Linked DNA regions of Homo sapiens. The protein of the gene in region 1 purifies or fractionates together with the protein of each later gene. This does not show direct contact. Each region holds a gene or a part of one and is shown on either strand. Other genes may lie near its edges.

Region 1 (7,250 bases):
GCCTTGAGTTGCAAAATAACAGAAAAGCTTTCTAGGAGAAATGGGGAGCCATGGCAGGTTCTTGAGAAAGTAAGGGACTGGCAGCAGCTACAGAGGGATGAAGTCAGACGGGACAGAAGGAGGCCACTGAGAAGCAGAATATAGGTAGATGTGACGAGCTGCATGGGAGGTCTCAAAACTGGAGACCGTTGGGCTAAATTCAAGTTTCAGACATTTCGTTTGGCTGCATTCCTCCCCAGCGTGGACCTCGTGTTTGAGATCTGAGCATGACTAATTCAAAGCCATAGTTGGAAAGGGCCCATGCTTTGGGTGAGTGACACTGGGCTCAGTGTCTCTCTGGGTCTCAGATTCCCCATAGAGCCTTCTAATTTTTGGACTAGATTCTGTGACCTAACTTTGCCTCATTTTAGACCCGGGATAAGACATGTTTAGTACATGCCTAGACAGGACAAACCACTCTGAGACCACACAGTGGCCAATTGCACGTCCTCCCTCAATAACTATCGCACAAAGCTAAGGCCACCAATGCTTTTATTTATCGCTTTGCGTGGAGACAAAGCACAAGCTCCGAGTGTGCTGGGAGCTCTCCATTAACTAGAGCTCCTGGTTGGGGTGGAGCTCTGGGAAAAGAAGAGGACCCTGCCAGGGAGATATTTCATTGGCCAGAATCCAGAGGATGGAGCCCATTGGTTGGAACTCTGGTTGAAACTGGAACTCTGAGAAGGGTGGAGAGAGCCCCCAGGTGGGACTCTGGGACAGGGGGCGGGGCGAGGAGTGAGGGAGCAGGACTCTGGTGGGCCAGGCCCTCCCACTGGCTGGGTTCCAGCAGTCGGTGGCAGGTGGGCAGGCGCCTACTTCTGGGCGGGGATCATGTCGTCAATGGACTGGCCTTTCTCCAACTTCTTCTCCATTTCCACCATGAGCTTCACACCATCCACCACCAGCTGCACCTGTTCTACTTCGGACGAGCCCAGCCGATCAGCGTTGGACACGTCAAATACTGAGCCCACGGCAGCTGTGTCCACGCCACCTGTGGGAGCAAGGGACAGGGGCGTGAAGAGGCAGCGAAGGTGCAGAGGGGCTGGGACGTGGCCCCCGTGCCAAATGCAACAGCCGCATGTAGTGAGTGCCTACTGTGTAACAGGTTACCTGCACACAGGTAATGCCTGTTCATTCGTGAGCTCACGAGTCTCTGACTTCAGATGGGGTACCACGCCACTCAGTTATCAAACATAGTATAGTGGGTAAGAGAGTGGGTTCTGGAGCCAGGCGGCCTAGGGTCGAATCCTGACCACTCCTCGCTTTATAAATGGGGAAACTGAGGCCCCGAGGGAGGTCCAAGGGCATGTGCAATGCATATTATATAATCATGAAAATCCCACATTGACTCCTATCACATAGGCATATTGACACCCATTTTACAGAGGAAGAAATGCAAGCTCACAGAGGGTCAGCCCTTGCCGGATCCCCAGAACTCGCAGGGATGTCGCACCTCTCCTTGCATCCCTGCAAAGGGCCCTCGCTCCCCCTCCGTCGTGGTGCAAAGGATGTGGGAGCCGTACCTGTACCCCTCTTCTGCAGACGCAGGCGGGTGAGGATCTCCTCGAACTTGGGGTGCTTGCTCAGGTGCGCCAGCTTCACATGCACGCCTCCACGCAGCCCAGTGCCCAGGTTGGATGGGCAGGTGAGCACGTAGCCCAGGTGCTGGTTCCACATGAAGGGGTGGCCAGCTTTCTTAAAGATCTCCTCAATCTGAGGTTCAGAGAGAGGACCAGGGGTCAGCGCCGGCAGGCACCCCCAAATGCACCCGCAACATGGACAGGGTCCGGAGGGACAGGGCGTGGGAACGTGGTGGAGGTGGGATTCTGAGGGGAACAGGGAGGTAGGAGATTCCGAGGGTGCTGGCTAGACAATGGGGACCAAGGCAGGATTTTGAGGGGCGGGGACTAAGAACGCTTTGAAGGCGGGTTTTTTTTTTTTTTTTTTCCAGAGTCTCTCTGTGTCACCCAGGCTGGAGTGCAATGGCGTGATCTCGTCTCACTGCAACCTCTGCCTCCCAGGTTCAAGCGATTCTCCTGCCTCAGCCTCCCGAGTAGCTGGGACTACAGGCGCGCGCCACTACGCCTGGATAATTTATTTATTTATTAATTTTTTAGTATAGAGACGGGGTTTCACCATGTTGGCCAGGCTGGTCTTGAACTCCTGACCCTCCTCAGCCTCCCAAAGTGCTGGGATTACAGGCGTGAGCCACCGCTCCCGGCCTGAAGGCGGATCCTTACGGGCGGGGCTTGGGCATAGGGTGGAGCTGGGTCCAGGGGCGGGGCCCTGAAAAGCGGGTGGGGCTAGTTTTGGGGGGCGGGGTTTGGCATGGGGTGGAGCCAGGTCCGGGGGGCAGGGCCCTGGAAAATGGGTGGGGCAGGGCTTAGTATAGGGGAAGGGGCGGGGCCTCGGAAAGCAGGTGGGGCGTTCAAGGTGGAGTCAGAAGTCAGCAGCTAAGGGCAGACACCCACCTTCTGCAGCCCTACGCAGAAGCGGCGGAAAACCTCCTTCATGTTGCCCCCCTTCTCCATGGAGATGACCCGGAGGTGATCCTCCTCGTTCACCCACACCAGGAAGCTCTTGTTGTCATTGTGCCTAGAGTAAGGTGCCGCAGCAAGAGGCCAAGGTGTCAGCCCCGTGGGAACCCCATTCCCAGCCCTCCCCCAAAACATCTGCCCACCGATGGGGGAAGAGGGCCTGAGGGGTGGGAGGTGGGTGGCATCTGCCTCCTCAAAACGCAGAAGCTTAAACCTGTAGACTCTAATGTCACAGGATCTGCAAAACGCTGAATCCTGGGATCAAGGACTTTTAGGGACTTAAGTCTTTGAACAGTATTATTATAGATCCTTGGGATCTCAGGATGTTTGACAAACAGAAGCTTGGGATCAGAACTGATAACACTTGGTAATCCTACATCTGGTTTCAGGACCAGAAAATCTTCCCATCGTAGTGTGTTAGCTCCCAATCCTAGCATCTCAGAAGCAGGATCTTAGAACATAAAATATTAAGGCTGGGTGCGGTGGCTCACGCCTGTAATCCCAGCACTTTGGGAGGCCGAGGCGGGCGGATCACAAGGTCAGGAGATCGACACCATCCTGGCTAACACGTCGAAACCCTGTCTCTACTAAAAAATACAAAAAAAAATCTGGGCATGGTGGCGGGCATCTGTAGTCCCAGCTACTCAGGAGGCTGAGGCAAGAGAATGGCGAGAACCCGGGAGGTGGAGCTTGCAGTGAGTCGAGATCGCGCCACTGCACTCCAGCCTGGGCAACAGAGCGAGACTCCATCTCAAAAAAAAAAAAAAAAAAGAACATAAAATATTAAGATCCGGAAATGGCCGGGTGTGGTGGCTCATGCCTGTAATCCCAGCACTTTGGGAGGCCAAGGCCGGAGGATTGCTTGAGCCCAGGAGTTCAAGACTACCCTGGGCAACATGGCAAGACCCACATATCTACAAAATTTAAAAAATTAGCAGGCATGGTGGGACACATGCCTGTAGTCCAAGCCACTGGGGAGGCTGAGGCGGGAGGATCACTTGACCTTGGAAGGTCCAGGCTGCAGCGAGCTATGATCCCACCACTGCACTCCAGCCTGGGCAACAGAGCAAGACCCTGTCTCAAAAAAAAAAAAAAAAAAACCTGAGGGCAGGCATGGTGGCTCACGCTTGTAATCCCAGCACTTTGGGAGGCTGAGGTGGGCGGATCACTTAAGGTGAAGAGTTCGAGACCAGCCTGAGCAACATGGCAGAACGCTGTCTCTACCAAAAATACGAAAACTAGCTGGGCACAGTGGCACATGCCTGTCGTCCTAGCTACTAAGGAGGCGGAGGGTGAGAGGATCGTTTGAACCCGGGAGATGGAGGTTTCAGTGAGTCGAGATCAACCCACTGCACTCCAGCCTGGGCCTCAGAGTGAGAGTCCATCTCAAAATAAATAAATAAATAAATGAGTGGAATCTTAAAACCTAAAAATATTTAAAATCTTGAAATCTTAGAATCATCCCATCTGTATATCTTAGCACCCAGGCTCCCTTCATCGATTGAAACCTAGGTTCTCTAAATCTTTGACTATCTGAATCAGGGATTCAAAGAGTCAAAACAAGTCTAGCAATAATACTTTATAATAAAGATAAGACGAATAACCAAGATGTACTGAACACTTAGTGTATACCAGGCACTGCTTTTTTTTTTTTTTTTTTTTTTGAGACAGAGTCTTGGTCTGTCGCCCAGGCTGGAGTGCAGTGATGCGATCTTGGCTCACTTCAAGCTCCGCCTCCCGGGTTCACGCCATTCTCCTGCCTCAGCCTCACGAGTAAGTAGGACTACAGGCGCCTGCCACCAAGCCCAGCTAATTTTTTGTATTTTTAGTAGAGACGGGGTTTCACCATGTTAGCCAGGATGGTCTCGATCTCCTGACCTCGTGATCCGCCCGCCTTGGCCTCCCAAAGTGCTGGGATTACAGGCGTGAGCCACCGCGCCTGGCCCAGGCACTGCTTTTAATACTTTACATAAATTAACTCATTTAATCCTCACAAGAACACCAGAAACTACAAATTATTGTGATCCCTATCCTATAGCTAGGAAACTGGGGTAGAGAAAAATAAAATAAGTTGCCCAAGGTCACAAAGCTAGTAAAGTTAGTAAATGGTAGAGCTGGGATTTGAACCTAGGGAGTACGGTTCAAGTCTGAGTTCTTATTTTTGAGACAGGTAGCTGGAGTGCAGTACCTCGGTCATGATTCACAGTAACCTCAATCCTCTGGGCCCAGCTGATCCTCAGCCTCTCGAGTAGCTGGGACCACAGGTATACGCCATCACGCCTGGCTTTTTTTTTTTTTTTTTTTTTTTTTTTTTTTTGAGACGGAGTCTCCTGTCGCCCAGGCTGGAGTGCAGTGGCACGATCTCAGCTCACTGCAAGCTCCGCCTCTTGGGTTCAGGCCATTCTCCTGCCTCAGCCTCCCAAGTAGCTGGGACTACAGGCGCCTGCCACGACGCCGGGCTAATTTTTTTTTTTTTTTTGTAGTTTTAGTAGAGACGGGGTTTCACCGTGTTAGCCAGGATGGTGTCAATCTCCTGACCTCGTGATCCGCCCACCTTGGCCTCCCAAAGTGCTGGGATTACAGGCGTGAGCCACCGCGCCTGGCTTTTTTTTTTTTTAATTTTTGTAGCGACGTGGTCTCCCTATGTTGCCCAGGCTGGTCTAGAACTCCTGGGCACAAGCGACCCTCCTGCTGCAGCCTCCCAAAGTGCTGGGATTACAGGTGTGAGCCACTGTGCCCGGCCAAGTCTAAGTTCTTTCTTTTTTGTTTGTTTTTTTTTGAGACAGTCTGGCTCTGTCGCCCAGGCTGGAGTGCAGTGGCACGATCTCGGCTCACTGCAACCTCCGCCACCTGGGTTCAAGCGATTCTCCTGCATCATCTTCCCAAGTAGCTGGGACTACAGGCGCCTGCCACTACGCCCAGCTAAATTTTTGTCATTTTTAGTAGACACCGTGTTGGCCAGGCTGGTCTCAAACTCCTGACCTCAAGTGATCCCCCCGCCTTGGCCTCGCAAAGTGCAGGGATTACAGGCATGAGCCACCGTGCCCCGCCAAGTCTTAAGTTTTTAACTACCACTTCTCCGGTCCAGATATCCCAAAATCTGACACACAGACCACAGGATGGGCAGGGGCGGAGGGCAAGATCATTTTCCGTGGCATTTAGAAGATCATAATTACGTATATGGCCTTGGTTTTGGTGGAGGAGTGAGGAGGGCCGTTGCAGGACTGGAGGAGGCTGGGGGAAGAGGAAGCCAGGGGGCGGGGAGGGGCCTCACCAGATGCCACGGGCGTCGGGCCAGTCGCGGGCCATGCCTGAGGCCAGCAGCAGCGGGGACACGGGCTTGTCGAACAGGAAGTGGTCATCGATGAGCTGCTGCTGCTCCTTCTCCGTCATGCTCTTCAGAGGGTAGTACTTCCCTTTGAACTCGCCCGTCAGGCTGTTGAGAGCTATGGGGACACACGAGGGAGTGGTCAGCAGCCTGTCCCACCTCAACCAGGGTGTGGAGGCCCAGGGTTTCCCCTGCTGCTGCTCCTAACGGGCCTGGGCCTTGGCCCCCTGGATGTCCTAAAGGCACCTGAACCCTGTGTCTAAACCCACACTTGTGACGGCTCCCCAAAATCTGTTCCTGCCATCTGTCCAGGCCCCCAGGAATGGCCACCCCATGTGCTCAATCTGGAAAACAGACCCACCTCTTCCCCTGAGGGACCCTCACATCCAATCCACCTGCAGGCCACAGTGTGCTGGTGCCTGCTCCTAATGGCTGGCAACACAGATGGCTGAAGTCTCAGGACTTTGAGAGGCCATTAGTAAAAATTATTATAAAGTAGAATGGTAGCCAGGTGCACTGGCACGAGCCTGTAGTCCAGATACTGGGGAGGCTGAGGCAGGAGGATCACTTAAGCCCAGGAGTTCGAGTCCAGTCTGGGTAACATAGCAAGACCCCCATCTTTTTTTTTTTTTTTTATGAGACGGAGTTTTGCTCTTGTTGCCCAGGCTGGAGCGCAATGGCGCGATCTTGGCTCACTGCCACCTCCGTCTCCCGGGTTCAAGCGAATCTCTTGCCTCAGCCTCTCAAGTACCTGGGATTACAGGCATGCGCCACCATGCCCGGCTAATTTTGTATTTTTAGTAGAGACGGGGTTTCTCCACTTGGGCGCCTGGCCCAAGACCCCAATCTTTAAAAAAAAAAAAATTGTAGGCTGGGCGCAGTGGCTCATGCCTATAATCCCAGCACTTTGGGAGGCCAAGGCAGGCAGATCACTTGAGGTCAGGATTTTGAGACCAGCCTGGCCAACATGGTGAAACCCCGTCTCCACTAAAAATACAAAAATTAGTCGGCCATGGTGGCACACGCCTGTAATCCCAGCTACTCAAGAGGCTGAGGCACGAGAAACACTTGAACCCAAGAGGTGGAGGTTGCAGTGAGCTGAGATTTTGCCACTGCACTCCAGCCTGGGTGACAGAGTGAGATTCTGTCTAAAAAAAAAAAAAAGAAAAAAAATTGTGTGTTTATTTGTATATTCATGTATAAAATATGTGTATAATGAATTTGTGTTTGTGCATATGTACAATAAATCTATAATATTTATATATCTTATACATATTCATATAATATACAGACATACCTCGTTTTATTGCATTTTGCAGATACTGTGTTTTTTACAAATTGGAGGT
Region 2 (5,102 bases), on another chromosome or scaffold:
TAGCCCTATTTCAAGTGCTCAATAGCCACGTATGGCTAGTGGCTACCATACTGGATAGCAGAGATACGTTTTCATCATTGCATAAAGTTCAATTGGACAGCACTGATCTGCTGCGTGTAGGGATCTGCTTTATCTGAAAACTTGATGCAGAATCACGGCTAGTTCAAAGAAACTTGCAGAACATTTCATGAAAATTAAATTTCTCTATGGTGAAAACTAGGGGTCAAGTAGCAGATGAATACTGGCTGTGAGATGAATGCATAACCAGAACCTCCCATTCCCCTTTTTCCAGCGTCTCTCCTATCTCCCAGCAGTGCTTTATCACTTTCTCCTCTCAAGTTGATAAAGAGAAAGGAAGAAAGAAACAGAGAAGTCGGTTTATGTTCATAATTAACATCCATGAACTCTGCATAATTTTTTCCCCTCTCTTTACAGGTCCTCGAGGCCACACGGGTTAATCGAAGAAAGAGCGCACTGGCTTTGCGCTGGGAAGCAGGGATCTATGCCAACCAGGAGGAAGAAGACAACGAATAAACTTCCTTCAACCCAGGAAGCGTCTTTGGTGCTTGGGAGACCAAGAAACCAAGAAATTAACAACTGAAAGCATTTTAATGGACTATTTATTAAAGTGCAAACAAACTCAGCAATCCTTATGTAGACCAGAAGCTGCAATATACAATGATGAAAATGAAACGAAAAGGAAGTCCCCCCATCAGACTCTGGACACCCAGGAATCAAAAGAGAAAGGACTTTTTTGGTGACTCAATCCCAGTGTCTGGTTTGGGGCCAATCTACAATGGATCCAAAAGGACAAAACATGTTACAAGCAAATCAACATAGTTGCTGCAGGCGGAACTGAGACCAGCCTCTCTGGGCGATGAAGGACAATGGTGGTAGGGCCACTTAGAGAGCAGTAGGGCCCAGGCTGGTGCAGCCTACATGGCACAGGATATTTCCCTGCACCAGTTTCCCACCTGTCACTTGCAGCATCAGAGGGTGTTGCATTAACTCCATTTTCTCCAGCAGCCATAAAATGAATGGCGTTTCTCTCCATATTTGCCCAGAAGAGGCAGTTATGATTCCACTTCTCCTACATTTAATTATTTTTAATTGAGAACAACTCATGATCACAATTCATAAAATCCATATTTTAAGACAATAGTTCTTCATGTCACAAACACAATCTATTCTACATGAGGAGGCTGAGAAAGGGGAAGAGAAAAACAAACCAAATGGATGATGTTAGCTTTAGGATCGTGTCTGCTTATAATATTCACTGATCTGCAGTTTATGAGAACACATTTTCACAGTTATGTTTCTTCATAGGAAAACTATATTTAGTGGGCAACAACTATTTTTATGATGGGATGGGGGAGTATATACACGTATAGAATCTGTACGCGTTGAACAACTTGGTTCAAGATGGTGGGGGCATTTTTAGAGCGGCAATAATTGAAAAAAAAGGCGAACTCTGCCTTGGAGAGGTAGATGATAAGAAATAAAAAGGTGTTTATAACTATTTTGTATTATAAAGTGGGCCTTAGAGATAGGAAGAAGAATGATGGATTCCTTTTGGATCAATCAGAAAGGAAACACGAAAGAAAAGTCAGGAAGGTAGAGAGAGAAAAAGGGAGGGAAGGAGAAAGAATGGGAATAAAATAAGGAGGTAAGAGATACTATTTTTGCTGAGCAACCAGTGTGTTTCAGGATGATACAAAGAAAAATATAGAATAGAAATAAGTGCAGGCTTGGAATCAGCTACAAATCCTAAAGATGGGGTGTGTGTGGATGTGTGTGTGTGTGTGTGTACACCATTGTGTGTTTGTAAAATGTGTATGTTCATGAGTAAGGGTGTGTGTGTGTGTGTATTAAAATTCCAGAGTGACCGTGGCACTTGGGTGTACAGGTAATTCCTCCAGAGCTGTTTGCTGGCTTCAGGAGTGGAGTGAGAATTTCTTTTTTATGAAAAGGGATATAAAGGCACCGAGCTGATGCAGTATTTGTAATATTAAGTTGACCTAACAAGGTATTTGCATGAGTCACAATTACAAAGTTTTGAGCGGTTTTGTAATTTGACATTTAGGAGAGTCTCCTATTTATTCTCATACTTTACATTCATGCTTAGTATACTATAGAGGATGCCAGCTTTAATCTTTCTGTCATTTAAAGCAATATGATAAGGGTATTCAATAATTGGGTGCCCTAAATTTCTGGATGAGAAAATTTTCAATTCTGGCCATGAGAAAGAAAAAAAAATAAACAGCCTTCTTTTTTTTTCCTTTGTTTTAAAACTGTGGTTTTTTAAAAAAGCAATAATTAACTCAGACCTCACTAAAAATCATTTTTGTTTTTATATTGTTATGTCATAAGCTCTATTATGTTATTCTAACAAGTAGCAATTTCACAAAATTTGTATGTAGATGTTAACGCACATTTCCTTTGCTTCTTTTATTAGACTAGTGTTGACTTTGGGGGGGGACATTTATTCACAAATGAGAAGTAGGCACAAAGTAAAAAATGGAACCATCTACTAACAAGGATCCTTTAAAACTGCCAAGGGAGCTCTAACTTGAAGCCACATCCTACAGATGGCAGCCCAAATAGCACATGGGCAATTGGCACCATCTTTATATGGTTGAGTCTCCTGAATATTTTGAATGAATTCTCAACAAAATGTGCTAGCCACTGGGGACGCAAAACAAGTAAGATCCCTGTTGCAAGAAATTCATTTTATAGTGAGGGAGGTTGGCATGGAGACTAAAATTCTCAGGAAAATGAGATCCGTGTTAGATTAGAAGTCCTGATGTGAAATGGGAGGACTCAGGAAGGAGGATCGTCTTTACCTGAGGATTTCTAGCCAGAGGTCCCAGATGCCTGGGCTGAGAACCCAGCGATAAGGGGGCGTTCCCAAAGCAGACACAGGGATAAGAACAGAGGAGGCAGCAGCATTGCACAGCCCCAGGCACAGTGGCAGTTAGGATGGCTGGAGAGTAGGATAGTTCTATGGGTTGCCCAAAAAATGTGATGCGCTTCATGTTTTCTCTGACTCATGGATCTGGTAGAGACCATAGACATGATATAGACTAACTTCCCCATTTTTCACAAGAGGAAACCATCCTTATGACTTACCTTAAAGTTTTTTGTTCTGTTTTGAAGGAAACCATGTGCTTCATGAAACCTACAGTTGACAAGAGAATGTACAGCTAAGAGAAAAGCTTAAGAGGCCACACTATTCGCGGAATGGCTTTAGAGGCAGATGAAGTGGTCTTTGACCACAGTTGATTGAACCAGAGCACTTATTGCTTAAAGAATAACAGAGTTCTAGAGCTGGGGGTTCTTGGGCCATGCTCCGTGTGTGGATAAGGAAAGAAATACTGTTTCTGGGACTCTCCCACAGTCACAAAGCTGTTTTCACTGTGGCCCCTACATCTCTTAACTTTTGCTATTACTCCTATGCTGCCTTCCGGATTACTGCTGTCTATCTTCTTGCTCCACTCACTGAAGATCCTATTATAATCCCATGAAAATGTAAATTACAGTTTACTTGGGAGAGCCAGATTTTCTCTGTGCTCTTGAGTTTTTTATTCATTCAAGAAACCTTGGGCCACCGCTTTGTACATAGCACCGTGCTAGGCTCTGGGATCCCAAATGGACCCTTTTAACTTTCTGAAGATGGGACCGTCCCCTGGAGGAAAGTCATTCCTGCCTAATCCATCGAGAGAAAGAGGCTTACGAAAAACTTTGCCTCTGATGCTCAGCCCCACCCCCAAATAGCACACAAGCTTGTTAACCCCACCTCTTACAAAATGTTTAGATTCTGTAGGTGTTAAAAGCCTTTCTGGAAGTATTGCATTCTGCCGTGTTTATAGGTGTTCACTTTCCTCCAGAGCTGATTAACTACTGACATGACTTGGCTTTCTCATCCAGAAATTATGGAAACAGGGTCTGTCAGTGGCAGGAGGCCGTGCTGTGTTTTACTTGGATGACACAATGCAGTTTACTTGCCTCTTCATACCCATGCATGCTGCTCACCCTAGACAATGACATATAAGCCGTATATAGATCAATGTCCACATATATATACACACACACATATATATATATAAAGTGTAACAAGGAACACTAAAACAGTGTTGATTCTTGTCTCTGAAGACAAATAATTAAACCTTTTTTTTCCCAACTAAAGAATGGATTTAATTAAACTATGTATTGAAAAAAAAGTAGCCTAAGTGTTAGAGATGGTGAATATATTCCATTTTAGTTAAAGAACAAATTTCCTGAATTTTAAGCATTCAGTGAGCTGCCAATTTTGATTTTGTGTTGCTCTTTACCCAAATTATTTTTTCTTTGTTTTTCTTTTTTTGGGGGAGGAGGGGAAAAAAGCAGCAATACTGTGTTTGGAAATTATACTCTGTATCTGGTTTTCCTGTGTATGTTAACCACTTAAATGTTATTATCCTGCTTTGGTTTTAGAGTGATTGTGAGGCATTCAATGCAAGTATACAGTTATTTTCTCATTAAAATCCAATGTGTGTTGAGTTTTTATAAATAATGGCTGCTTGTTTGACCGTGAGGGAGGTTGGAAGACTGGGCCAAACAGTGGCACGCCAGCGTCCTACTTGGCCGCTACTGTGTGACAGCTTCTGGTTCCTCATGTTTGCAACAAAGGAATCAATCCGAGCTGAGGGGGCACTGCTGCACCAGGCTGTTCCCACAGCCCCCTTTTCAATGCTGTCCCCAGCCACCCTGGCTAGATGCCAGAAGCTGCAAGTGCCTCTTAAGGACATAGACTCGAAGCCACAGCAAGAGCTGGACAAACAGCAGGACGAACGGTAAACTCCAGCCTTGCCTGTAGCTTTTGGCTCTAACCTTTAGAATACATTATGAGCACCGGCCGGGCGCGGTCGCTCACGCCTGTAATCCCAGCACTTTGGGAGGCCGAGACGGGCGGATCACGAGGTCAGGAGATCGAGACCATCTTGGCTAACACGGTGAAACCCCGTCTCTACTAAAAATACAAAAAATTAGCCGGGTGCGGTGGCGGGCTCCTGTAGTCCCAGCTGCTCGAGAGGCTGAGGCAGGAGAATGGCGTGAACCCGGGA

Evidence for each region.
Region 2: the proteins of CKM (region 1) and PALM2AKAP2 purify together in Homo sapiens (affinity purification with mass spectrometry; 3 studies listed by BioGRID and IntAct, with this or other methods). This does not show direct contact.

The regions. Positions count from the first base shown.
Region 1 is NC_000019.10:45,305,899-45,313,148, forward strand, and holds the end of CKM (creatine kinase M-type), read right to left. Parts: intron 6,023-7,250; coding exon 5,851-6,022; intron 2,635-5,850; coding exon 2,511-2,634; intron 1,753-2,510; coding exon 1,563-1,752; intron 1,031-1,562; coding exon 852-1,030; 3' UTR 515-851; downstream 1-514. UniProt on the Homo sapiens protein: Reversibly catalyzes the transfer of phosphate between ATP and various phosphogens (e.g. creatine phosphate).
Region 2 is NC_000009.12:110,167,964-110,173,065, forward strand, and holds the end of PALM2AKAP2 (PALM2-AKAP2 protein isoform 3 (PALM2-AKAP2)), read left to right. Parts: intron 1-435; coding exon 436-534; 3' UTR 535-4,549; downstream 4,550-5,102. UniProt on the Homo sapiens protein: Binds to regulatory subunit (RII) of protein kinase A. May be involved in establishing polarity in signaling systems or in integrating PKA-RII isoforms with downstream effectors to capture, amplify and focus diffuse, trans-cellular signals carried by cAMP.